Homo sapiens: one gene and its partner. The protein of the gene in region 1 interacts with the protein of each later gene in a biochemical or structural test. Each region holds a gene or a part of one and is shown on either strand. Other genes may lie near its edges. The genes, in order: PLCB3 and TRPM7.

Region 1 (11,726 bases):
GGGTTTCTAGGTGACTTGGCTGGCCCCTCTGGATGAGTTCTACTTTAAACCTGCTGCTGTTACTGCCTCTGTATTGGGGGGGCTCCCACAGGGGCCCCCAGGCAGGAACCCCCCCCACCAGCTAAGCCCTGCGGGAGGGGCTGCAGCCCCCACCCATCCCATTGCCCATGCGCCTTCCCCGCTCCCATCTCTGGAACGCAGATTTCAGGGCACCTGCTGTGGGCCAGGCACTGCAGAGCCCCTCCTCAACCCTCCTGTCTGGGGACATCCACAAAGCTTCTGACCCCTCTGGGCAGACAACAGCGTTCCCCCCGCGGTTCCCAGCCAAGAGGCTCACAGTCAGGTTCCAGTCATGGGAGTCTGCAGCAACAAGAAGGGGGCTGTTCTAGGGCTCACTCTCGAAGACCAGGATGCTTGGGTCCTTAAAGGAGGTGGCAGGCGCCCGGCCTCCCTGGGCTAGGGACGGGGGAGGGGTGCCTGCCGGCGGGAGGTCCATTAGCCGGCTAAGTGCTCCCAGGGAGGGGGGACCGCGCGGCATAAGAGTGGGTGAGGCGAAGCCAGGGCAGAGGGGGGCGGAAGAAGCTTTTCCTGCATTCAGCTAAGTGCGGCAGAAGAGGGTGGGCGACAGGGCTGTGCAGCGACCCCCCGGCCCAAGTCTAGCCCTCCGCTGGTACTGCAGCCCTAGTCGCTCGGAAACCTCAGTGGGCTGATCCCGGACCGCCTTAAGCAGCGCCCTCTACACCCAGTCCCTCCAGCTGCTCCCCAACAGCCACTTCGGCCCCCAGCGCCCTCCTTCCACCACAGGCCTGAAGAATCAGGTTCTGCTGAGCCCCGCAGCAAAGCCCCCGACCCGTCCGCGTGCCCCTGCCCCAATCCCCGCTCCGGCTGCAGTCGCCGCCCCGGCCGCCAGGGGGAGCCGACGCGGTGGGAGGGGGCGGGGCCCGGGAGGCCCCGCCCCGTCCCCGCCCCGCCCGGGCCCCGCCGAGGCTCTGGTCGGTCCGGGACAGACTGGCGGGCGGGCGGGCACTGACGCCGCGGGGCCGGAGCGGGCCGCGCGGTGGGAGCAGCGGCGCCGTCGGTCCCCGTCAGGGCTCCGTGGGTCCCCGACCCGCCCCTGGCCGGGCCATGGCGGGCGCCCAGCCCGGCGTCCACGCGCTGCAGTTGGAGCCGCCCACCGTGGTGGAGACCCTGCGGCGCGGGAGTAAGTTCATCAAATGGGACGAGGTAAGCGCGCGGGCCCCTGCTCCGCCCAAATCCCGGGACTCTTTCAGTCAAGCTCGACCAGACGCTGGGGACCCCCACCCCAGCCTCGCCTGCCCGTGGCGCCACCCTCATCCCAGTCTGGCGGCGCCCCGGAAACTTAAGTCCCCGATCGTCTCCGTAATGAAGACTTTGTCCCCCCAACTCCCAGTCCCTCAGCTCTGGAAAATTTGCCTCCACTCCTTGGCGCAGAGACTTTGAACCCCAATAAACCCCGTCCCCCCGTTTTCCATTCGTTCTTCCCACCGCTCCCTGCCAGACTAATTCTCGTTCCCCGATCCTGGCCTGGTGCCCAGACCCCTGCCCAGCACTAGACTCCCCGGCTGCAGGACCCTGACTTCCAGGCTGGCTGGGGGCATCCTCATTCTGGGTGTGTGCCAGGGCGCCCCTACTCTCCCCGGTGCCCTGCCTGAACAGTCCTCGTCCATTCATCATTTTTCCCCCTGTTCTGGTTGGCACCCCTTCGCCCTGCTTCTGGATCCCAGCCCAGCTCCCTGTTCAGATGGGAGCACCCAGTCACCCCCTAGTGGAGACTTTGCCCCCCAAGTTCCTCCACCCCTGGGAACTTTGCTCCCCACTCCTTAGGCTTGGGACCTTGAACCCCAATACATCCTGGCCCCCCTTTCCCTGTCCTGCCCCTGGTGCTTCCCAAATGCCTGTGTCCCCACCTTCGGCTGCCCATCCCCATCCTGGGTGCATCCTCTTCTGCCCCCTGGGCCCTTCCTTCCCTAGGGCCTCCACCCGGCCGGCCTGAGCTTCCTCGCAGCTCCTTCCCAGTCAGGCCACGGGCCTGGAAGACTCTGGGCTCTTTTCCGGCTGGGTGGGGCCCCGGGGTAGGCGTGGGAGCTGGGGGGAGGAGATGGGGGCGTGGCCTGAAGCGGCAGGTGTGCGAGGTGGGGTGCCTGGGGGCCCCAGGGGCCGGGGGAGACCCCTCCCCCCAGGCTGGCCTGAAGGGAAAAGTTTCTTCTTTTCATTCCACTGTGATAAACCCAAATAAGGAAGTGGGAACAGGGAGAGGGCCCTGGGGGTGGGGTGGGGGGTGCTGACGGAGGCTTGGGGCAGGAGAGCAGGGGACCTGGGCTGCCTTTGAGGTCCAGACCCCTGGGGAGAGGTGGGAGGGAAACACTAGGGGCAGTACCCATAGACTCCCCGCTCTGCACACCATTCGGGGGCCTCAGGCCCAGGGTAGGGTTGGGAATCCGGAGAAGTGCTGGGGCTGGGTGTCAGCACACTGAAGTGGGGAGGCCCATGCATCCCCAAATTTTGGGGGCCTTCTGTTCCCAGATGAACGCCCATCTTTTGTAAGCAAAGCCTGCCATGGGTGGGGCTGGTGCAATCCCCATTCTCCAGAAGAGGAAACTGAGGTCTGGAAAGCAGAGAGTTATCCCAGGCCCCACAATGGGGTGTGGCTGAGGCCAGGAGCCGGGAGCCTGGCAGAAGTCTCCGCTCCCTGCTTCCCAGGTCACAGGACGCTGCAACCACACTGCCTGCAAGCAGGTCCTGGCTCCAGTGATCTCGGGCAGGCTACGAAGTGTCCCTGTAACTCAGTGTCCTCATCTGTAAAATGGGAGTGACAACAGCACATGCCTCTTAGGCTGGTTAGGAGGCCTTTGTGTGCTCGAAGATGCTAGGTGCATAGAACTGTACCTGGTGCGCAGTAGGGGCGGTGTGCGTATATGAGATGTATTGATAATAATAGTATTGTCCACCAGACACTGAGATGCATTTTGGGGGTGGCACCCAACATGAGGTGGGGTCCTTTTCTGTCTGGAAGAACCTGGAATAGGAGGGTTCTACCTGTAGCCACTTGTTCACTCTGGCCCTGGCCGAGTCTAAGCCCTGGAGGACAGCCCCTCTGGCTGCTGGTCCTGAGTCACACAGGGTGGCCCTGGTAGTGTGCCAGGGACCGGGCCCTTCTTAGAAAATGGGGCTGGCATGCACTTCCCTGCCCCCTGCCAGCTGCACGGCTGTTTGAGGGAGGAAGAGCTCACTGCCCAGTCCTGAGAGTAGGGCAAGTCCCCTTCTAGGGGGACTGTTCTTCTACGAGATGGGGATGAGCTTTGAGGCTGTGAGGACCCCGGCAGATGTGGTAAGGTGGATAATGGGCTTTGAGGCAGACCACAGGGCTATCGTGATGTCCCAAGGGATGCAGAAGGGCAGTGGGAGTCAGACTTCTCACTTTCATGCCTTAAACATTCTGCAGTGGGGTGGATTGGGGGGCTGCCACTGTCACAGAGCTCTCAGCACTTCTGGGGAAACTGAGCCCAGGATGGGGGCTGGGGACCTCTTCCAGGGGGTGGGTCAGATTTCACGGGTGGAGAAGGAAGGGCAGGGTGTCCTGGCAAAGGGAACATGAGACAAAGCCCTGGGAAAGGTCAGGTAGAATCCTAGGGCCAGAGGGAGGTGAGGCTGGGAAGAGGCTTTGAGGTAGGTGTGACACTAAATGTCACACCTAGGACCTTGGCTTTGTTCTGAGGGCCACAGGCAGCCACACAGGACCTGTGGACTGGATGAGGTTTCGTCTTAGCTCATGGGCAGGAACTCTGGGGTGCATGATGGGAGGGCCCCAGGGGCCAGGCCTGCACCACAGCCCTCACTTCCTGACCCCTGCTGCCCTGTGCTGTCCTCAGGAGACCTCCAGTCGGAACCTGGTGACCCTGCGTGTGGACCCCAATGGCTTCTTCTTGTACTGGACGGGCCCCAACATGGTGAGGGTGGGCGCTGGTGCAGCTCGCTCAGGCCAAGGACCCCTGTCCCAGACCCCTGCCCTGCCCGTGGGGGTGGGGCCCGGCTGCAGGCTGACCTCTCCCACTGCTGCCCAGACAGGAAGTGCTCAGGGCAGGAGCTGAGGCTGGGGCTATAGCCAGGGGCTGGCCATTCCCTGGCCTGGGTAGAGAGCTTGGAAGCTCCTGGCTATTGCCCTGCAGCCTCTCATACTCAGCCTGGCATCTGGTTCCCCCCAGGAGGTGGACACACTGGACATCAGTTCCATCAGGGACACACGGACAGGCCGGTACGCCCGCCTGCCCAAGGTGAGTGATGAGCCTGGGAGTGAAGACCACAGCGAGGCTGTGCGGGAGCCCCCTCTTCACCCTTCGCTGTCACCTACTCAGGACCCCAAGATCCGGGAAGTTCTGGGCTTTGGGGGTCCCGATGCCCGGCTGGAGGAGAAGCTGATGACGGTGGTGTCTGGGCCAGACCCAGTGAACACAGTGTTCTTGAACTTCATGGCCGTGCAGGATGACACAGCCAAGGTGGGCTGGCACCAAGGGGACGAAGGGGGAGTCACTGTCTTATTCTGTGAGTCGGCCGTCACTTACCGAACACCTGCTGTGTTCTAGGCTGCTCTGTGACCTACTGTGTACCAGAGGCAGTTGTGGACCTGGGTTGTGGCTGGGCAGCCCCTGTGTCCCCCACTCACCGCCTCCCCGTGTATACTGGCCCCCCAGGTCTGGTCTGAGGAGCTATTCAAGCTGGCTATGAACATCCTGGCTCAGAACGCCTCCCGGAACACCTTCCTGCGCAAAGCGTGAGCCCCAGGCCACCCGAGGGGGAGCCGGGGGGTTCACGTGGCCGTTTTCAGGGTGTGACCTCTTCATCTGCCTTCCCAGATACACGAAGCTGAAGCTGCAGGTGAACCAGGATGGTCGGATCCCCGTCAAGAAGTGAGCACCCCTTCCCCCAGCACCTTCCTCCTGCCCTGACCTTGGTGACCTTTGTCCTCCACTGACCCTGAACCCCTCCTGCCCGCATCAGCATCCTGAAGATGTTCTCAGCAGACAAGAAGCGGGTGGAGACTGCGCTGGAATCCTGTGGCCTCAAATTCAACCGGGTGTGTGGGGTGGGGACAGGGGCGGGGTGGGGTGTCACGGTGGGCACCCACCCTTACGGGGCTGCCCGCCCCTGGCTTCTCACCCCACACTCCTCGACCTCCAGAGTGAGTCCATCCGGCCTGATGAGTTTTCCTTGGAAATCTTTGAGCGGTTCCTGAACAAGCTGTGTCTGCGGCCGGACATTGACAAGATCCTGCTGGAGATGTGAGTGGGCCCGGCCTGCCTCACAACCCCTGTGCTCTGTGTTTAGCTTCTGCTTAGCGTGCCTCTAGCTCAATGGGGAGAGGGGAAACTGGTGGGCCGGGTCCTGGAGCGCCAGGGGGCGGAGGGGTGCCCAGGGAGAACCTGTCGGTGATGTTCCTGTACTCAGACCCGCCGTTTCTGCCCCTCAGTTACAGGCAGCTCTGGGCTAACCCTGTGCCAGGGTTGGTTTAATCAGCCCACTCTGCAATGGGGTCCAAGCCTCAGGTGTGTTGTGAGGTCTGGAAGCGAGGGGTGGTGGGCTGACCACTTGGCAGCTCCTAAGCCCTGGCCATTGCTGGTGCCCACTAGTCTGCTGCCTTGACAATCCTGAGTAGTCAGGAGAGTAAAGGGGGAAACTGAGGCCCAGAGGTTGGCCATGACTCACCCAGAGTCCCACTCACTGGGTGCCAGATCCAGGGGCAGGCCTTCTGACTCCCTTGCCCAGGGCAAGGGCTTGGCGACGGGGTGGGAGCCCTGCCAGGCTCCATCCTGACCCAGCTTCCTGTCCCCTCCAGAGGCGCCAAGGGCAAGCCATACCTGACGCTGGAGCAGCTCATGGACTTCATCAACCAGAAGCAACGCGACCCGAGACTCAACGAAGTGCTGTACCCGCCCCTGCGGCCCTCCCAGGCCCGGCTGCTCATCGAAAAGTATGAGCCCAACCAGCAGTTTCTGGAGCGAGGTGAGCTGGCTGGGGTGCAGGTGGGTGGGGGCAGGTGGGACCCCAGCTGACCCTGCTGATCCTCTCCCACCCCAGACCAGATGTCCATGGAGGGCTTTAGCCGCTACCTGGGAGGCGAGGAGAATGGCATCCTGCCCCTGGAAGCCCTGGATCTGAGCACGGACATGACCCAGCCACTGAGTGCCTACTTCATCAACTCCTCGCATAACACCTATCTCACTGGTGAGTGGGGAGCAAGGGTGGCACCCGTGACCTCTGCCCTGTGACCCTTGCACAGCCCCACTCCTCCTGGGGCACAGTCCTTTTGGCCCATTTGCTCATTCATTGGCCAGTGCTGGGGATGCAGGCAGGGAACAGGCAGCCAGCCCTGAGCAGTGGGGCCTCATGGTGGCTTTCCCAGGGAAGGGCTGGAACAGCTTGTGTTAGGGCCTGCAGCAGGAGAGACTTCAGGGTCCTTTTTTTTTTTTTTTTTTTTTTTTGAGACAGAGTTTCGCTCTTGTTGCCCAGGCTGGAGTGCAATGGCACGATCTAGGCTCAGCGCAACCTCTGCCTCCCAGGTTCAAGCGATTCTCCTGCCTCAGCCTCCCAAGTAGCTGGGATTACAGGCATTCGCCACCACGCCCGGCTAATTTTGTATTTTTAGTAGAGATGGGGTTTCTCCATGTTGGTCAGGCTGGTCTCAAACTCTCAACCTCAGGTGATCCGCCTGCCTCGCCCTCCCAAAGTGCTGGGATTATAGGCATGAGCCACCTCGCCCAGCCTGCAGGGTGCTTTTAAGAGGCTGGAAGGGGGTTGGGTGCGGTGACTCATGCCTGTAATCCCAGAACTTTGGGAGGCTGAAGCAGGCAGATTACTTGAGCCCACGTTTTGAGACCAGTCTGGGCAACATAGCATGACCCCATCTCTACAAATAATTTTTAAAAAATTAGCTGGGCATAGTGGCGCATGCCTGTGGTCCTAGCTGCTTGGGAGGGTGAGGTGGGAGTATCGCTTGGTTCTGGGAAGGTTGAGGCAGGAGTAAGCTGTGATTGCACCACTGCACTCCAGCCTGGGTGACAGAGTGAGAGACCCTTTTCTAAAAAAAAAAATTAAATAAATAATAAAAAAGCAGAAAGGAAGCTGGTGCGGCAGGGTGCAGAGTGCTGGAGATAGGTGCCTGCTAAGAGAGGGAGAGCAAGGCAGGGCTAAGCCCAGGGGCCTAGAGGCACTTGGATTCATCCTGGGTGTGAGGAAGAGGCTTTTTGGAGGGTGAAGCAGAAGAGGTGATGTGACCTGATATGATATGTTTTTAGAAGGATGATGCCAGGTGCTCTATAGAGATTGGATTGAGGCCAGGCACAGTGGTTCACACCTGTAATCCCAGAACTTTGAAAGGCTGAGGCGTGTGGATCACCTGAGGTCAGGAGTTCGAGACCAGCCTGGCCAACATGGTGAAACCCCATCTCTACTAAAAATACAAAAATTAGCCAGGCATGGTGGTGGGCAACTGTAATCCCAGCTACTCGGGAGGCTGAGGCAGGAGAATCGCTTGAACCAGGGAGGCGGAGGTTGCAGTGAACCGAGGTTGTGCCACTGCACTCCAGCCTGGGTGACAGAGCGAGGTTCCGTCTCAAAAAAAAAAAAAAAAGAGATTGGATTGGAGGCAGGGAGGGCTGGAGTCTTCCACACAGGAGGTGGTGTGAGCTGTGCCAGGGCTGAGGTGGGTGGAGGGAGTGAGGAGAGGGAGGGATTGTTGAGGCAGTGGGGAGCTATAGTGAGTCTCAGGGATGACTCCCCCCAGCTCACGCTGGTGGGATGGACAGGTGGTGGGTATCCATCTGAGAGATGGAGAGCCCTCTGCAAATCCAGCATGTCCTGGTTCCAGGTGGGGCCGGGGTGGTGAGGAGCTGGGCTGGTGGGCGGCCTCGGTGACAGAGCCTCGCCGCCCCAGCGGGGCAGCTGGCTGGGACCTCGTCGGTGGAGATGTACCGCCAGGCACTACTATGGGGCTGCCGCTGCGTGGAGCTGGACGTGTGGAAGGGACGGCCGCCTGAGGAGGAACCCTTCATTACCCACGGCTTCACCATGACCACAGAGGTGCCTCTGCGCGACGTGCTGGAGGCCATTGCCGAGACTGCCTTCAAGACCTCGCCCTACCCCGTCATCCTCTCCTTCGAGAACCATGTGGACTCGTGAGTGAGCCCCTGGCATGAAACCCCATGGACCGGGGGACAGTCTTCCAGCTTCAGTGCTGTTGGACTGCTCAGGGACCTCCAACCCTGCGAACGGCCACTGACATGTCCCGTAGACCTCAGCTTCCTCTCTGGGGGAGGGATCTCTGACCTCTGACCTCGGTTCCGCAGGGCAAAGCAACAGGCAAAGATGGCTGAGTACTGCCGCTCCATCTTTGGAGACGCGCTACTCATCGAGCCTCTGGACAAGTACCCGGTACGGGAGCTCGGAGCGAGGGGGGTGGCATGGGGGCCAGGGTGCTGCGGACCCGGTCCAGGGCCCTGACTCGTCCATGCCTGCCCAGCTGGCCCCAGGCGTTCCCCTGCCCAGCCCCCAGGACCTGATGGGCCGTATCCTGGTGAAGAACAAGAAGCGGCACCGACCCAGCGCAGGTGGCCCAGACAGCGCCGGGCGCAAGCGGCCCCTGGAGCAGAGCAATTCTGCCCTGAGCGAGAGCTCCGCGGCCACCGAGCCCTCCTCCCCGCAGCTGGGTAGGCCCCAGCCCGGCCCGCCACCCTGACTTGACCCTAGCCTCTGGCCTCATGCTCCAGGCGCCGTGACACTTCATCCCAGACCCCCAGCCCACCCTCCTGCCTCGCTGTGCGCCTGTTCCCACAACCGGCCTGTCTCCTCACCACCTGTCGGCTGGTGTGGGGCCTCTGACCCCTGACCTCAGGTGCACGTCTCACCCAGCTGCACCCCAACTCCTGACTCCCAACCTCAGCCTCTCACCTCTCAGAGCCTTCCCACAACCCGGTGATGGCTCTGAAGGCTGACCTCTGACCTCAGTAAACCACATCCCACACTGGGTGTGACCTCAGACCCCTAAGCCCGCATTGAGTTCACCTGCCCAGTTGGTTATCATTTCAGCTGACCTCTGACCTCTCACCCCTGACTGTTCACCTCACTATGCCCCCTCCTTAGACATGGCTCTGACTTACCCCTGACCTGTAACCTCTCTATGTCATCCCTTACCCCGCTATTAGGGCTGTGGTATGCTACTTCCTGACTTCTCACCCCACTGAACCACCCTATCTGCCTCCCTGCTGAATATCACTGCAGACCTTTACCTTTGACCTATGACCCCTCTCAACCCATACTGGGTTAATACCATCTGACCTCGACCTCTTGGCCTCTCCCCAAGCCACACTGCCCTGAGAGTACCCCTTGAATTCCCCACTGAGTCACCTCGGCACACACTGGGAAAAACCCCTCCAGACTTCCTAAGCAGCTGTGTGGTCCTGACCCCTCACCCTGTGGCCCTGTCCTCTGCAGGGTCTCCCAGCTCTGACAGCTGCCCAGGCCTGAGCAATGGGGAGGAGGTAGGGCTTGAGAAGCCCAGCCTGGAGCCTCAGAAGTCTCTGGGTGACGAGGGCCTGAACCGAGGCCCCTATGTTCTTGGACCTGCTGACCGTGAGGATGAGGAGGAAGATGAGGAAGAGGAGGAACAGACAGACCCCAAAAAGCCAACTACAGATGAGGTCAGGCCCACAGGGTGGGCAGGTCGGGGAGGTAGCATCTATTTACCTCCCAGGGGGCTGGGTCTGACCATCAACAAGACTGACATCACCCCTGCCTCCTGGGGCTCAGTGTGGGTGTGAGTGAAGGTGGGAGGAGGGCTCTTCAGTCATCAGGCATGGAAACAAGCATACAGTTCTGCTGGTGATGTGGCCTGGGAGGTGCGAGTTAGGGTACAGAACTGGCAGAGGATAGGGAGTCTACCCTGGGCAGGGAGGTGGGGCAGGGAGACCTCAGGAAGGGGGACAGCATGTACAAAGGTCCTGGGGCAGGGCCAGGGGGTGCAGGAGCGGGGAGCATTGTCATGGGGAGCATTGAGTAGCTGTGAGGAATGGTACAGAAAAAATCAGTCTGAGCTGGGCGTGGTGGCTCACACCTGTGATCCCAGCTACTCGGGAGGCTGAGGCATGAGAATCCCTTGAACCTGGGAGGTGGAGGTTGCAGTGAGCTGAGATTGCACCATTGCACTCCAACGTGGGCTAAAAAGGGAGACACTATCTCAAAAAAAAAAAAAAAAAAAAAAGACATCATTGCTATAAAGACAATTACTGGAGCAATTAGTGAAATTTAAAGATGGACTACATATTAGATAATATGTTAATGTTTTGTTTCCTGAATTTAATTATTGTATTGGAGTTATAGAAGAGAATGTCCATATATGCTGAAGTATTTATGGGTAAAGGGTCATGATGTCTATAATTTACTCCCAAATGATTCAGTAAAAGTAATGATAATTATAACACCTATATGGGCCAGGCGAGGTGGCTCATGCCTGTAATCCCAGCACTTTGGGAGGCTGAGGTGGGCGAGTCACCTGAGGTTGGGAGGTTCCAGACCAGCCTGGCCAACATGGTGAAACCCCATCTCTACTAAAAATACATAAATTAGCCGGGCAAGGTGGCGGGCGCCTGTAATCCCAGCTACTTGGGAGGCTGAGGCAGGAAAATTGCTTGAGCTGGGTGGTGTCCAGGGCGCATCAGTGAGACCCCGGGGAGAAGACTGTCGGCACCACCAGCAGTGTGTATATAGTGCTGGGAAGAGGGTCAGCACCTCCTTCATGGGGGGCAGGTGAGGGAATGGCCAGCTGTGGCGGGAATGGCACTGCTGACCCTGGGTTGGGGCCCACAGGGCACAGCCAGCAGCGAGGTGAATGCCACTGAGGAGATGTCCACGCTTGTCAACTACATCGAACCTGTCAAGTTCAAGTCCTTTGAGGCTGCTCGAAGTGAGTGGGGGTGGGTGGCAGGCATGGGAGCTTGCCCAGCTCAGCCCTGCCAGGTCTGACGCCCTTTCTTGGCTCACCCCTAAGAGAGGAACAAATGCTTCGAGATGTCGTCCTTTGTGGAGACCAAGGCCATGGAGCAACTGACCAAGAGCCCCATGGAGTTTGTGGAGTATCCTTTGAAGGTGCTGTGGGCGGGCAGGCCAGGGTGGGGCGCTCGGAGGCCGGCTCCGGTGTTCTGTCCCCACATATGCCACCTGCACAGGGTGCTGGCCCTCCGGCGGCCCTCCTGCACCCTGGCCTGGGGCTTGGGCAGATCCAGGCAGTCTCAGGGGGCATGGCTAGGCTAAGAAACAGAGGCCGGGTGTGGGGGTCACAGGAGCACCTGGCTGAGGCCGGAGGTGGAGGCTGATGGGGTGGGCCCTGGCACCTGTGTGGCCCCTGACCACCAATCTCAGATACAACAAGCAGCAGCTCAGCCGCATCTACCCCAAGGGCACCCGCGTGGACTCCTCCAACTACATGCCCCAGCTCTTCTGGAACGTAGGGTGCCAGCTTGTTGCGCTCAACTTCCAGACCCTCGGTGAGCCCTGGCCCCCTCCATCTTGACCCCGACCCTCAGTCTTACTGACTTCTGACCCACGATCCTGCTGGTCTTGCCTGAATGGACCTCTGACCCTGTCTCATCCCAGATCCCAGGGGAACCCAGCTCCCGACTCACCCCGCCTCCTGCCCTTGGCTGATACCAGACCCCTCC
Region 2 (11,726 bases), on another chromosome or scaffold:
AGCTGGGACTACAGGCGCCTGCCACCGCGCCCGGCTAATTTTTTTTTGTATTTTTAGTAGAGGTGGGGTTTCACCATGGTCTCGATCTCCTGACCTTGTGATCCGCCTGCCTCGGCCTCCCAAAGTGCTGGGATTACAGGCATGAGCCACCGTGCCCGGCCTACTCCTTGTTTCTTGAGAATATTTATCTTGAATGGATATTGAATTTTGTCAGATTTTTTTTTCTGCATCTTTTGGTATGATCATGTGGTTTTTCTCCTTTAATAGGTTAATATAGTGTATTACATCGATTGATTTTTTTAATGTTGAGCCAGTATTGCATTCCTAGGACAAACCACACTTTGTTGTGATACATATCTTTTTTATTTATTGTTAGATTCAGTTTTCAATAATAGGTTGAGGATTTTGCATCTGTGTTCATGAAGAATATTGGTCTGTGGTAGGTTTGTTTTATGGGGCACTATGTTTGTTTTCTTTTAGTATTAGGATAATACTTATAAAATAAGTTTTATTTTCGGGAATAGATTGTATAGAATTGATATTGTCCCTACCATGAATGTTTGATAGGATTTTCCAGTCAAACCATCTTGGCCTGAAGTTTTCTTTGTCACATGGTTTTAAACTAAGCATTTAGTGGGGAGGGGACAGGGGTAGCATTGGGAGATATACCTAATGCTAAATGACGAGTTGATGGGTGCAGCACACCAACATGGCACATGTATACATGTGTAACAAACCTGCACATTGTGCACATGTACCCTAAAACTTAAAGTATAATAATAAAAAATAATTTTAAAAATAAAAAATAAAAAAATAAACTAAGCATTTAATTTCTTTAATAGAGATAGGACTGTTGATTATCAAATTGTTTTTGAGTGAGTTTTGGTAGTTTGTGTCTTTTAAGGAATTGGTCCATTTTTTTTTTTAATTGTCAAATTTGGGGGCATAAAGTTATTTATGCTGTTACCTTACTATCTTTTTAATATCCGTTAGGTCTGTGGCAAATCCCCTTTTTCCTTATGGCAGTTTGGTCTGTGCTCTTTGTTTCTTGATCAGCCTGGCTAGAGGTTTATCAATTTTATTGATACCTTCAAAGAATCAGTTTTCGTTGTCATTGTTTTACTCTTGCTTTTCTGTTTTCAATTTATTTGATTTATTCTTTTTATTTTTCCATGTTTATACTCGCTTTAGGTGTAGTTTGTTCTTTTTCTAGTTTATTAAAGTAGAAACTTAGATTATTGATTCTCGGATCTTTATTTTATTTATTTATTTTGAGATGGAGTCTCACTCTGTCACCAGGCTGGAGTGCAGTGGCGTAATCTCTGCTCACTGCACCCTCCACCTCCCAGGTTCAAACGATTCTCCTGCTTCAGCCTCTTGAGTAACTGGCACTACAGGTACGTGCCACCACACCCAGCTAATTTTGTTACTTTTAGTAGAGTCAGGGTTTCACCATGTTGGCCAGGATTGTCTTGATCTCTTGACCTCGTGATCTACCCGACTCGGCCTCCCAAAGTGCTGGGATTACAGGTGTAAGCCACTGCGCCCGGCCTCAGATGTTTATTTCTAACAAGAGATTGAGTGCTATAATTTTCCCTCTAAGCATTGTTTTAGCTCCATCCCTCAAATTTGAGTATATTTTATTTTCATTTTTATTTACTTTAAAATAATTATAATTTCAGTTGTTATTCCTCTTTGATGTATGGATTGTCTTGTTTAGTTCTTAAATAGTTTAAAATTTTACAAATGTCTTTAATTGATTTCTTGCTTAATTCTATTATAAAAGAAACATACTTTGTACTATTTCAATTAAATTTTTTTTAATTGAAGTACAAGTTTATGGAGCTGGGTTCAGTGGCTCACACCTGTAATCCCAGCACTTTGGGAGGCCGAGGCAGGTGGATCACCTGAAGTCAGGAGGTCGATACCAACCTGGCCAACATAGTGAAACCCCATCTCTACTAAAAAATACAAAAATTAGCTGGGTGTGGCAGTGGGTGCCTGTAATCCCAGCTACTCAGTAAGCCAAGGCAGGAGAATCACTGGGACCTGGGAGGCAGAGGTTGCAATGAGCCAAGATTGCGCCACTGCACTCTGGCCTGGGCGACAGAGCAAGACTCCGTCTCAAAAAAAAAAAAACAAAAAGAGTTTATGGTCTCTGAGCATTCCATGTGCTTTGGAAAGTAATGTATATTCTGCTATTGTTGGATGGAGTATTCTGTAAATATTAATTAAAGTTTGTTGCTAGTGTTCGGAGTTCTTGTATCCTTGCTGGTTTTCTGTGTATTAGTTCTATTGATTAACTAGAAAGGAAGTCTCCAAATATAATTGGATTTGTCTGTCTTGCTTTTCAGTTCTGTCAGTTTTTCCTTCATGTGTTTTGAGGCGTTGTTCTTAGATGCATACACATATACTATTGTTAATGTCTTCTTGGCGAATTGATTATTTTATCATTGTGTATTAATAATATCATGGTAATTTTCCTTATTTTGACGTATACTTTTTCTAATATTAACATAACCACTCCAGCTATCTTTTGATTAATGTTTTCATCATATACCTTTTGCCAGTCTTTTTTTCAAAACATACACACACACATCTATATATAATTATATTTAAGGTGGGTTTCTTGTAGACAGCATATACTGAGGTTCTTGATTTTGTTTTAAATTTAAACAGTTTCCATTTTTTAAGCCAGCACGGTACCCCTGTAATCCCAGCACTTTGGGAGGCTAAGGAGGGCAGATCATTTGAGGTCAGGAGTTCGAGACCAGCCTGGCCAACATGGTGAAAACCTATCTCTACTAAAAATACAAAAATTAGCTGGGCGTGGTGGTGGGTGCCTGTAATCCCAGCTACTTGGGAGGCTGAGGCAGGCGAATTGCTTGAACCCGAGAGGCACAGGTTGCAGTGAGGAGAGATTGCACCACTGTGAGACAGAGTGAGACTCCATCTCAAAAAAAAAAAGCAATCTGGCCCAGATCCTTCATTTTCTAGATAATATAATTAAAGTTGAGATGATTTGCTCATTGATACACTTACTAGTTAACAATATAATTAAGGTGAGCTATAATTGTGTTTCTCTCCACTGTTCTTTGTACAGTAATCGCAGATTAGCTTATATCCCTAAAGCCATACTGACATAGTCTTGAATTTAAAATTTATCAAAAATAATTAATATAGTTGCAAATATGTTTGGATTGTTTAATATAGGCTGTTTCTTAGATTAAAATTAACAGTTTATGATTCAGTGAGGTCAAATATTTTTATTTTTTAAAAAATAAATTAGTTCATATTCTGAGTATCAGTTATATTTTATATGGAGATAAAAATATAAGGGTTTACGCCATGACACACATATACCTATATAACAAACCTGCATGTTCTGCACGTGTATCCTTTTTTTTAAAAAAATAAAAACATACATATATATATGTTAATGCATGACTTGGTTAGTTTATAATGTTGATATTACTGCATTGTTTCCAGTTCTGCAACTATTTTCATCTATGTCTGTAACTTCTTAAGTGATTTCTTCTTGTCCCATACCTATAAATATGTTTATGTACTTATCATAGCAAATCTGTCTGAAGACTTGACATATTTCCCAAGCTCCTGTTTCTGTTCAGCTACCTATATTTCTACTTGGATACTATTTTATTTTATTTTATTTTATTTTATTTTATTTTATTTTATTTTATTTTATTTTATTTTATTTTTTGAGACAGTCTCACTCTGTCACCCAGGCTGAAGCAGAGGGGTCCATCCTTTTGGCTTCCCTGGGCCACATTGGAAGAAAAATTGTTGGGCAGGCACCATGGCTCATGCCTGTAATCTCAGCACTTTGGGAGGCCGAAGTGGGCAGATCACTTGAGGCCAGGAGTTCAAGAGCAGCTTTGCCAATTATGGCAAAAACCAGTCTCTACTAAAAATATAAAAATTGGCCATGTGTGGTGTCACAGGCCTGTAATCCCAGCTACTTGGGGAGGCTGAGTCACAAGAATCGCTTGAACCACAGAGGTAGGGGTTTCAGTGAGCCGAGATCGTGCCACTGCACTTCAGCCTGGGCAACAACAAGACCTTGTCTCAAAAAAAAAAGAAGAATTGTCTTGGGCTACACATAAAATACACTGTCACTACCATAGCTGATGAGCTTAAAAAAATGCAAAAAAATGCCATCATGTTTTAAGAAAGTTTATGAATTTGTGTTGGGTTGCATGTGGCCTGTGGGCCGAGGGTCGGGCAGGCTTGCTATAAAGCATCTTTAGTAACGTGTCCAATCCAAAATTCTTGATTTATATCTCCCACCCTACATAGAACTCTGTTTCCCTATCTTATTAATGGTTACCCAGTTGCTCAAGTCCAAAACCTAAAACTATCCAATTCTTCTTTTCCCTTGCCCTTCATAGCCAATTCATCAAATTCTGTCTGTTCTAATTTTGAAATCTCCCTAGAATTCATCTGCTCTTCTCTGTCTTCATGGCTACCACCTTGTTTCCTGGACTGCTGCCACCCATCCTCTCACAAGAGTTTTCATAGTCATCAGAATAGTTCTTGAAACAAATCTGATGATGTTCCTCTCTTGAGACTGCTTAAAACCTTCCAGTGGATTTGTATTGTATCTGTACTTCTCATCATAGCTTGTATCTATGATGTATAAATGAAGATCAGCAAACTTCTGTAAAGGGCAAGGTAGCAAATATTTTAGGCTTTGTAGACCATGTGGTCTGTCCCAGCTACACAGTTCTACCGTCGTGGTGTGGAAATAACCACAGACTGTGAACAAATGAGTGTGACTGCATTCCAGTAAAACTACTTACAAAAACAGGCAACAGACCAGATTTGGCCCACAATCTGTAGTTGACAATCTTGGGCCATTAACTGCTGCTTGAGCTCAATTTCTACTAGTTTTCCTCTCATTCACTATGTAGAAGCCACACTGTCTTCTTACCATTCGCAAAGCACACTAAGTCCATTCCTTCTGACAGTCTTTGCAGTTAACCCTCCCTCTGCCTAGAACACTCCTCCTAGAGCTTTGATAGTTCACTTCTCAATATTAAGGTATTTACTCAAATCTCTTCCTCTGGCTTTCCTGCCCAGACCTGTTTGAAACAATCACCCTATACCATCTTCCATCTGTCCCTCATTATAATTCACTACACTCTTCTCTTCAAAGCACTTTTTTTTTTTTTTTTGAGACAGGATCTCACTCTGTCGCCCAGGTTGAAGTACAGTGGCATGATCTTGGGTCATTGCAATCTCTGCCTACTGGGGCTCAAACAGTCCTCCCACCTCGGCCTTCTGAGTAGCTGGGACTACAGGCGCACATCACCACACCTGGCTAATTTTTGTATTTTTTGTAGAGACAAGAGACTTCACCATGTTGGCCAGGCTGCTCTTGAACTCCTGACCTCAAATGATTCTCTCACCTTGGCCTTTCAAAGTGCTGAGATTACAGGCATGAGCCACTGCACCCTGCCTTCAAGGCACTTTTTACTGCTTATAATTCTGTCATTTTTCTGTTTGCTTATTTTTTGTCACCCACTAGAATATAAGCTCACTGAGACCAGTGAGCTTGTCTGGTTTGTTCACTGCTACATTCCCACGCCTACATGAGTTTCTGACTCATGGTCAATATGTAATTATTTGTTGAATGAATGAATGACTTCATTTTTATGTGTATAAATTTGGTGACTACTGAATTTATAACAACCTGATGGAAAACAAGTCTGACATGTTTGGAGAAAAATTGATTAGAAATGATCCTAATTCAGCCGGGCATGGTGGCTCACACCTATAATCCCAGCACTTTGGGAGGCCGAGGCAGGTGGATCACCTGAGGACGGGAGTTCAAGACCAGCCTGACCAACATGGTGAAACCCTGTCTCTACTAAAAATACAAAAAATTAGCCGGGCATGGTGGTGCATGCCTGTAATCCCAGCTATTTGGGAGGCTGAGGTAGGAGAATCGCTTGAACCCGGGAGGTGGAGGTTGCAGTGAACCGAGATCGCGCCATTGCACTCCAGCTTGGGCAACAAGAGCGAAACTCCGTCTTGAAAAGAAAATAAAAGGTTCCTAATTCTCCATTTCTAAGAAATACTAACTTTTTTCTTTTCTCTTTCTTTTTTTTTTTTAATTGTTGTGGGTGTTCAATGTAGATCTGAAGAGGAATGATTATACGCCTGATAAAATTATATTTCCTCAGGATGAGCCTTCAGATTTGAATCTTCAGCCTGGAAATTCCACCAAAGAATCAGAATCAACTAATTCTGTTCGTCTGATGTTATAATATTAATATTACTGAATCATTGGTTTTGCCTGCACCTCACAGAAATGTTACTGTGTCACTTTTCCCTCGGGAGGAAATTGTTTGGTAATATAGAAAGGTGTATGCAAGTTGAATTTGCTGACTCCAGCACAGTTAAAAGGTCAATATTCTTTTGACCTGATTAATCAGTCAGAAAGTCCCTATAGGATAGAGCTGGCAGCTGAGAAATTTTAAAGGTAATTGATAATTAGTATTTATAACTTTTTAAAGGGCTCTTTGTATAGCAGAGGATCTCATTTGACTTTGTTTTGATGAGGGTGATGCTCTCTCTTATGTGGTACAATACCATTAACCAAAGGTAGGTGTCCATGCAGATTTTATTGGCAGCTGTTTTATTGCCATTCAACTAGGGAAATGAAGAAATCACGCAGCCTTTTGGTTAAATGGCAGTCAAAATTTTCCTCAGTGTATTTAGTGTGTTCAGTGATGATATCACTGGTTCCCAACTAGATGCTTGTTGGCCACGGGAAGGGAAATGACTTGTTCTAATTCTAGGTTCACAGAGGTATGAGAAGCCTGAACTGAAGACCATTTTCAAGAGGGACGGTATTTATGAATCAGGGTTAGGCTCCATATTTAAAGATAGAGCCAGTTTTTTTTTTTAAATAGAACCCAAATTGTGTAAAAATGTTAATTGGGTTTTTTAAACATTGTTTTATCAAGTCACTGTTAAGTAGAAGAAAGCCATGGTAAACTGATACATAACCTAAATTATAAAAGCAGAAACCTAACTCACTCGTCAAGGGAAGTTACCTTTTGAGGAAAGTTAAAGTACTTTTTTCCCTATCTGTATCTATAGCAACAACCCAGAACTTACAAACTTCTCCAAAGATTTTATTGATTGTTATATCAAATCAGAATGTAAACATGAACTCTTGCATATATTTAAAATTGTGTTGGAACATTTGAACATGAATGCTGTTTGTGGTACTTAAGAAATTAATTCAGTTGGATTATCATTATGTGATACTGGCAGATTGCAGTGCAACCTTATGCCAATAAAATGTAATTTAACAGCCCCAGATATTGTTGAATATTCAACAATAACAAGAAAAGCTTTTCATCTAAGTTTTATGCTTTAATTTTTTTTCTTTTTTTTTCTTTTTCTTTTGTTTCCTTGGTACTAATTTTAATTTTTATTTGGAAGGGAGCAGTATAAAGCTTATTTGTATTTAGTAGTGTATCTCATAGATACAGACAAGGCAAGAGATGATAAGCTGTTTAAATAGTGTTTAATATTGATTGGGGGTGGGGAGAAAGAAAAAGTGTATTACTTAAAGATACTATATACGTTTTGTATATCATTAAATCTTTAAAAGAAATGAAATAAATTTATTGTTTACAGATGTTTAGTGAGTTTAATCATTCTGAAAAATTATCTGACATTTTCAGGGTGTCAATTTGAGTATCAGTTTTTTTAAATGAACCATTTGTATACCTGTGCTTTTGATCTCCTGTCCTGTACAATGTTTAAATTAATACTGATTTCTTACTGTCTTCTTAGAAATCTGTTTTTTGTTAGGCCAAAAAAGGGCAATATGGGCTGTCTGTTGATTTTTAATTTTATATTGATTATTTTCACAGGATTATAATAGTAGCTATACTTTTTTTTTTTTTTTTTTTTTTGAGACGGAGTCTCGCTCTGTTGCTTGGGCTGGAGTGCAGTGGTGCGATCTCAGCTCACCACAACCGCCGCCTTCCGGGTTTAAGTGATTCTCCTGCCTCAGCCTCCCGAGTAGCTGGGACTACAGGCACACGCCACCATGCCCAGCTAATTTTTATATTTTTAGTAGAGACAGGGTTTCACTATGTTGGCCAGTGTGGTCACAAACTCCTGACCTTGTGAGCCACCGCACCTGGCTGCTAACACTTATTTAGTGCCTACTGTGTACCAGACATTACTCTAAGTATTTCACATATATTAACCTACTTAATCCTTATAACAATGTTATAAAGAAATAGGTGTTATTATCCTGTTTTGCAGATTTGAAAGTCAAGGTGCTAGAGAGGTAAAGTAACGTCCATAAGATTCTTACGTTTATTTAATAATAAGTAGCAACGGTAGGATTTGAACCCAGGCTGGCTGCCTTTCATCTATACTGTTTTTGTTTTGTTTTGTTTTGTTTTGTTTTGTTTTGTTTGTCTTGGTGGGGCATGGTGGCTCATGCCTGTAATCCCAGCACTTCGGGAGGCCAAGGCAGGTGGATCACTTGGGCTCAGGAGTTTGAGACCAGCCTGGGCAACATGGCAAAATCCTATCTCTGCTAAAAAAAAAAATACAAAAATTAGGCCAGGTGCAGTGGCTCATGCCTGTAATCCCAGCACTTTGGGAGGCCAAGGTGGGCGGATCACAAGGTCAGGAGTTCGAGACCAGCCTGACCAACATAGTGAAACCCCGTCTCTACTAAAAATACAAAAAATTAGCTGGGCATGGCGGTGAGTGCCTGTAATCCCAGCTACTCAGGAGTCTGAGGCAGGAGAATTGCTTGAACCTGGGAGGTGGAGGTTGCAGTGAGCTGAGATCGTGCCATTGCGCTCCAGCCTGGGCAACAGTGCGAGACTCCGTCAAAAAAAAAAAAATAACTGGATGTGATGGTGTGCACCTGTAGTTCCAGCTACTTGGGAGACTGAGGTGGGAGGATCACTTGAGCCTGGGAGACTGAGGCAGCAGTGAGCTGAGATCATGCCACTGCTTTCCAACCTGGGCAACAGAGTGAGATCCTGTCTCAGAAAGAAAAAAAAAAAAAAGACAACCTCTTGCTCTGTTGCCCAGGCTGGAGTGTAGTAGCGTGATCATAGCTCACTGCAGCCGTAAACTCCTGGGCTCAAGCAATCCTCCTGCCACTGCCTCTTGATTAGGTGGAACCACAGGCATGCACCACCACACGTACCTAATTTTATATATATATTTTTTTATTTTTCATTTTTATTTATTTTTGTTTTTTTGAGTTGAAGTCTCACTCTGTTGCCCAGGCCGGAGTACAGTGGCACAATCTTGGCTCACTGCAACCTCTGCCTCCCAAGATCAAGCAATTCTCGTGCTTCAGCCTCCAAAGTAGCTGAGATTACAGGTACCCACCATAATGCCTGGCTGATTTTTGTATTTTTCGTAGAGACAAGGTTTCACCTTGTTGGCCAGGCTGATCTCAAACTCCTGACCTCAAGTGATCCACCTCCCCCGGCTACCCAAAGTACTGGGATTATAGGTGTGAGCCACCATGCCTGGGTAACACCCAACTAATTTTAAATATATATTTTGTAGAGATGGGGTCTAGCCTTGTTGCCCACGCTGGTCTCAAATTCCTGGGCTCAAGTGATCCTCTCGCCTGAGCTTCCCAAAGTGGTAGAATTGCAGGCATGAATTGCTGCACCCAGCCTCATCTGTGCTGTGAATTATGTGCTGTATTGACTCTCAAGCATGATGACCATTGGTGGTTTCTGTACCATTTCCTGTTACTTTACTGAAACACACCTACTCCATTAACTTCTTGGGTTAAGTCTAGAAAGTAACAGTTTACTTGTAAACCACATTTCTTATCCCCAATAAGTATTTTTTTAAGATTATTAAAGTTCATTATTACTACCCTATGATGTGAAAGTGTCATTTGCTTAATCTTTTTAATTTTTTATTCTCAACCTCATCTTACTGAAGAGAATAAAACTCTTTTACCATATTCTTAAAATGTGGAATTCTCGGCCAGGTGCAGTGGCTCACGCCTGTAATTCCATCACTTTGGGAGGCCAAGGTGGGTGGATCATCTGAGGTCAGGAGTTCAAGACCAGCCTGGCCAACATGGTGAAACCCCGTCTCTACTAAAAATACAAAAATTATCTGGGTGTGGTGGCGCGTGCCTGTAGGCCCAGCTACTCAGGAGGCTGAGGCAGGAGAATTGCTTGAACCCAAGAGGTGGAGGTTGCAGTGAGCCTAGATTGCTGCCACTGCACTCCAGCCTGGGTGACAGCAGAACTCTGTCTCAAAAAAAAGATGTGGAATTCTTTTCTGCAAATGTTCTCTAATAGTATACCTTCTTCAGTCTGTCGATATATGTATGCTATTATTTTACAAGTAATACATGTTGATTGTATTGGAAATTATAGAAAAGATTATATTGGATTGTTTAGAAAATATTTTTAAATGTGAAGAAAAATATAAAAATTACTCCCTTGTTCCACTTTCCCCACTCTCAAGTCAGACTATGTTGTTTTCATAGTTAGTAGCTAGCAGTCTACCCCACTAGATTATATGCTTCACAGAGGGAAGGGACCCTCAAGACTTCACTGGATTGAGTAGCACCCAATACCTTGCTTGCTGCCTGGTTTGTGATGGGCATACTGTAAGAAAAAAAAATCTGAATGACAAAATGTTTTTCCATAATACCAGACTTCCTCTTGAAGAGATGGGTCGTAATGTTGTAGTCTTACATGCTTACGTAGACAATCAAAGCAAGAATACTCAATAAATGGCTATTTACCACTTGAAAGAAAGATCAAGTAATTATTTACAGAAAATGATGTGTCTACACAACAGGGATTTTTGAATTTCTCCTTATTTACCATATCTGATCTTATTGCTTCCTAGCTGGGTTTCAACAAGGCATCTGTATTTAAAGGTCCCAAATGATCTGTGAGCTTTTTCTTAGGAAAATTCCAGGCTAAGGCTCTGGTCCTCTCTAGAATATGATTTTCTAACTTCTTTGGAAACTCCTTAAAGCAGATTTCCATTCCTGGGGCCCATGATTCCACATTGGTGGGCATGAAGATGGGAGAGGATGTGGTTATTCTTCAGAAAAGCCACACACTTCAGGCTAACAGTAAATAGCACCAGTGAACAGAGCACTTTCTTCTTGTGCTGTCCAAACCAACATTAGGCTCTCTCCTTGTATTTCCCTTGGAATTTCTGTGTAATCCTGCATTACAGAATTTTTCTTTCATTTTAATTATGTCAGTATATGTTTCTTAAAGATTAAGAACTATAACATTATTACACCTGAAAGTTTAACCAAAAATATTGTCAAATATGTAATCATTGCTCTAAAAAAAATTTGTTTTAAGTAATTTAATTAGGACACAGAAGGTCCATACATTGCAGTTCCTTGCTAGTTTTGTTTTGTTTTTATTGGAGGCAGAGTCTTGCTCTGTTGCCCAGGCTGAAGTACAGTGGAGTGATAACCTTCGCTTCCAGGTTCAAATGATTCTCCTGCCTCAGCCTCCGAAGTAGCTGGGTCTACAGGCACATGCTGCCACACCAGGCTAATTTTTGTATTTTTAGTAGGGACGGTGTTTCACCATGTTGGCCAGGCTGGTCTCGAACTCCTGACCTCAAGTGATCCACCTGCTTCCGCCTTCACCTCCCAAAGTGCTGGGATTATAGGCGTGAGCCATTGAACCCAGCCAACA

Evidence for each region.
Region 2: the proteins of PLCB3 (region 1) and TRPM7 form a complex in vitro, tested with the Homo sapiens proteins (one study listed by BioGRID).

Annotation. Positions count from the first base shown.
Region 1 is NC_000011.10:64,250,525-64,262,250, forward strand, and holds the start of PLCB3 (1-phosphatidylinositol 4,5-bisphosphate phosphodiesterase beta-3), read left to right. Parts: upstream 1-1,005; 5' UTR 1,006-1,125; coding exon 1,126-1,224; intron 1,225-3,890; coding exon 3,891-3,968; intron 3,969-4,223; coding exon 4,224-4,292; intron 4,293-4,373; coding exon 4,374-4,514; intron 4,515-4,709; coding exon 4,710-4,789; intron 4,790-4,871; coding exon 4,872-4,925; intron 4,926-5,016; coding exon 5,017-5,092; intron 5,093-5,196; coding exon 5,197-5,297; intron 5,298-5,851; coding exon 5,852-6,018; intron 6,019-6,093; coding exon 6,094-6,240; intron 6,241-7,948; coding exon 7,949-8,189; intron 8,190-8,360; coding exon 8,361-8,445; intron 8,446-8,533; coding exon 8,534-8,720; intron 8,721-9,504; coding exon 9,505-9,710; intron 9,711-10,875; coding exon 10,876-10,972; intron 10,973-11,056; coding exon 11,057-11,141; intron 11,142-11,427; coding exon 11,428-11,552; intron 11,553-11,661; coding exon of another isoform or gene 11,662-11,726. UniProt on the Homo sapiens protein: Catalyzes the production of the second messenger molecules diacylglycerol (DAG) and inositol 1,4,5-trisphosphate (IP3).
Region 2 is NC_000015.10:50,556,242-50,567,967, reverse strand, and holds the end of TRPM7 (transient receptor potential cation channel subfamily M member 7), read left to right. Parts: intron 1-6,159; coding exon 6,160-6,290; 3' UTR 6,291-10,810; downstream 10,811-11,726. UniProt on the Homo sapiens protein: Bifunctional protein that combines an ion channel with an intrinsic kinase domain, enabling it to modulate cellular functions either by conducting ions through the pore or by phosphorylating downstream proteins via its kinase domain.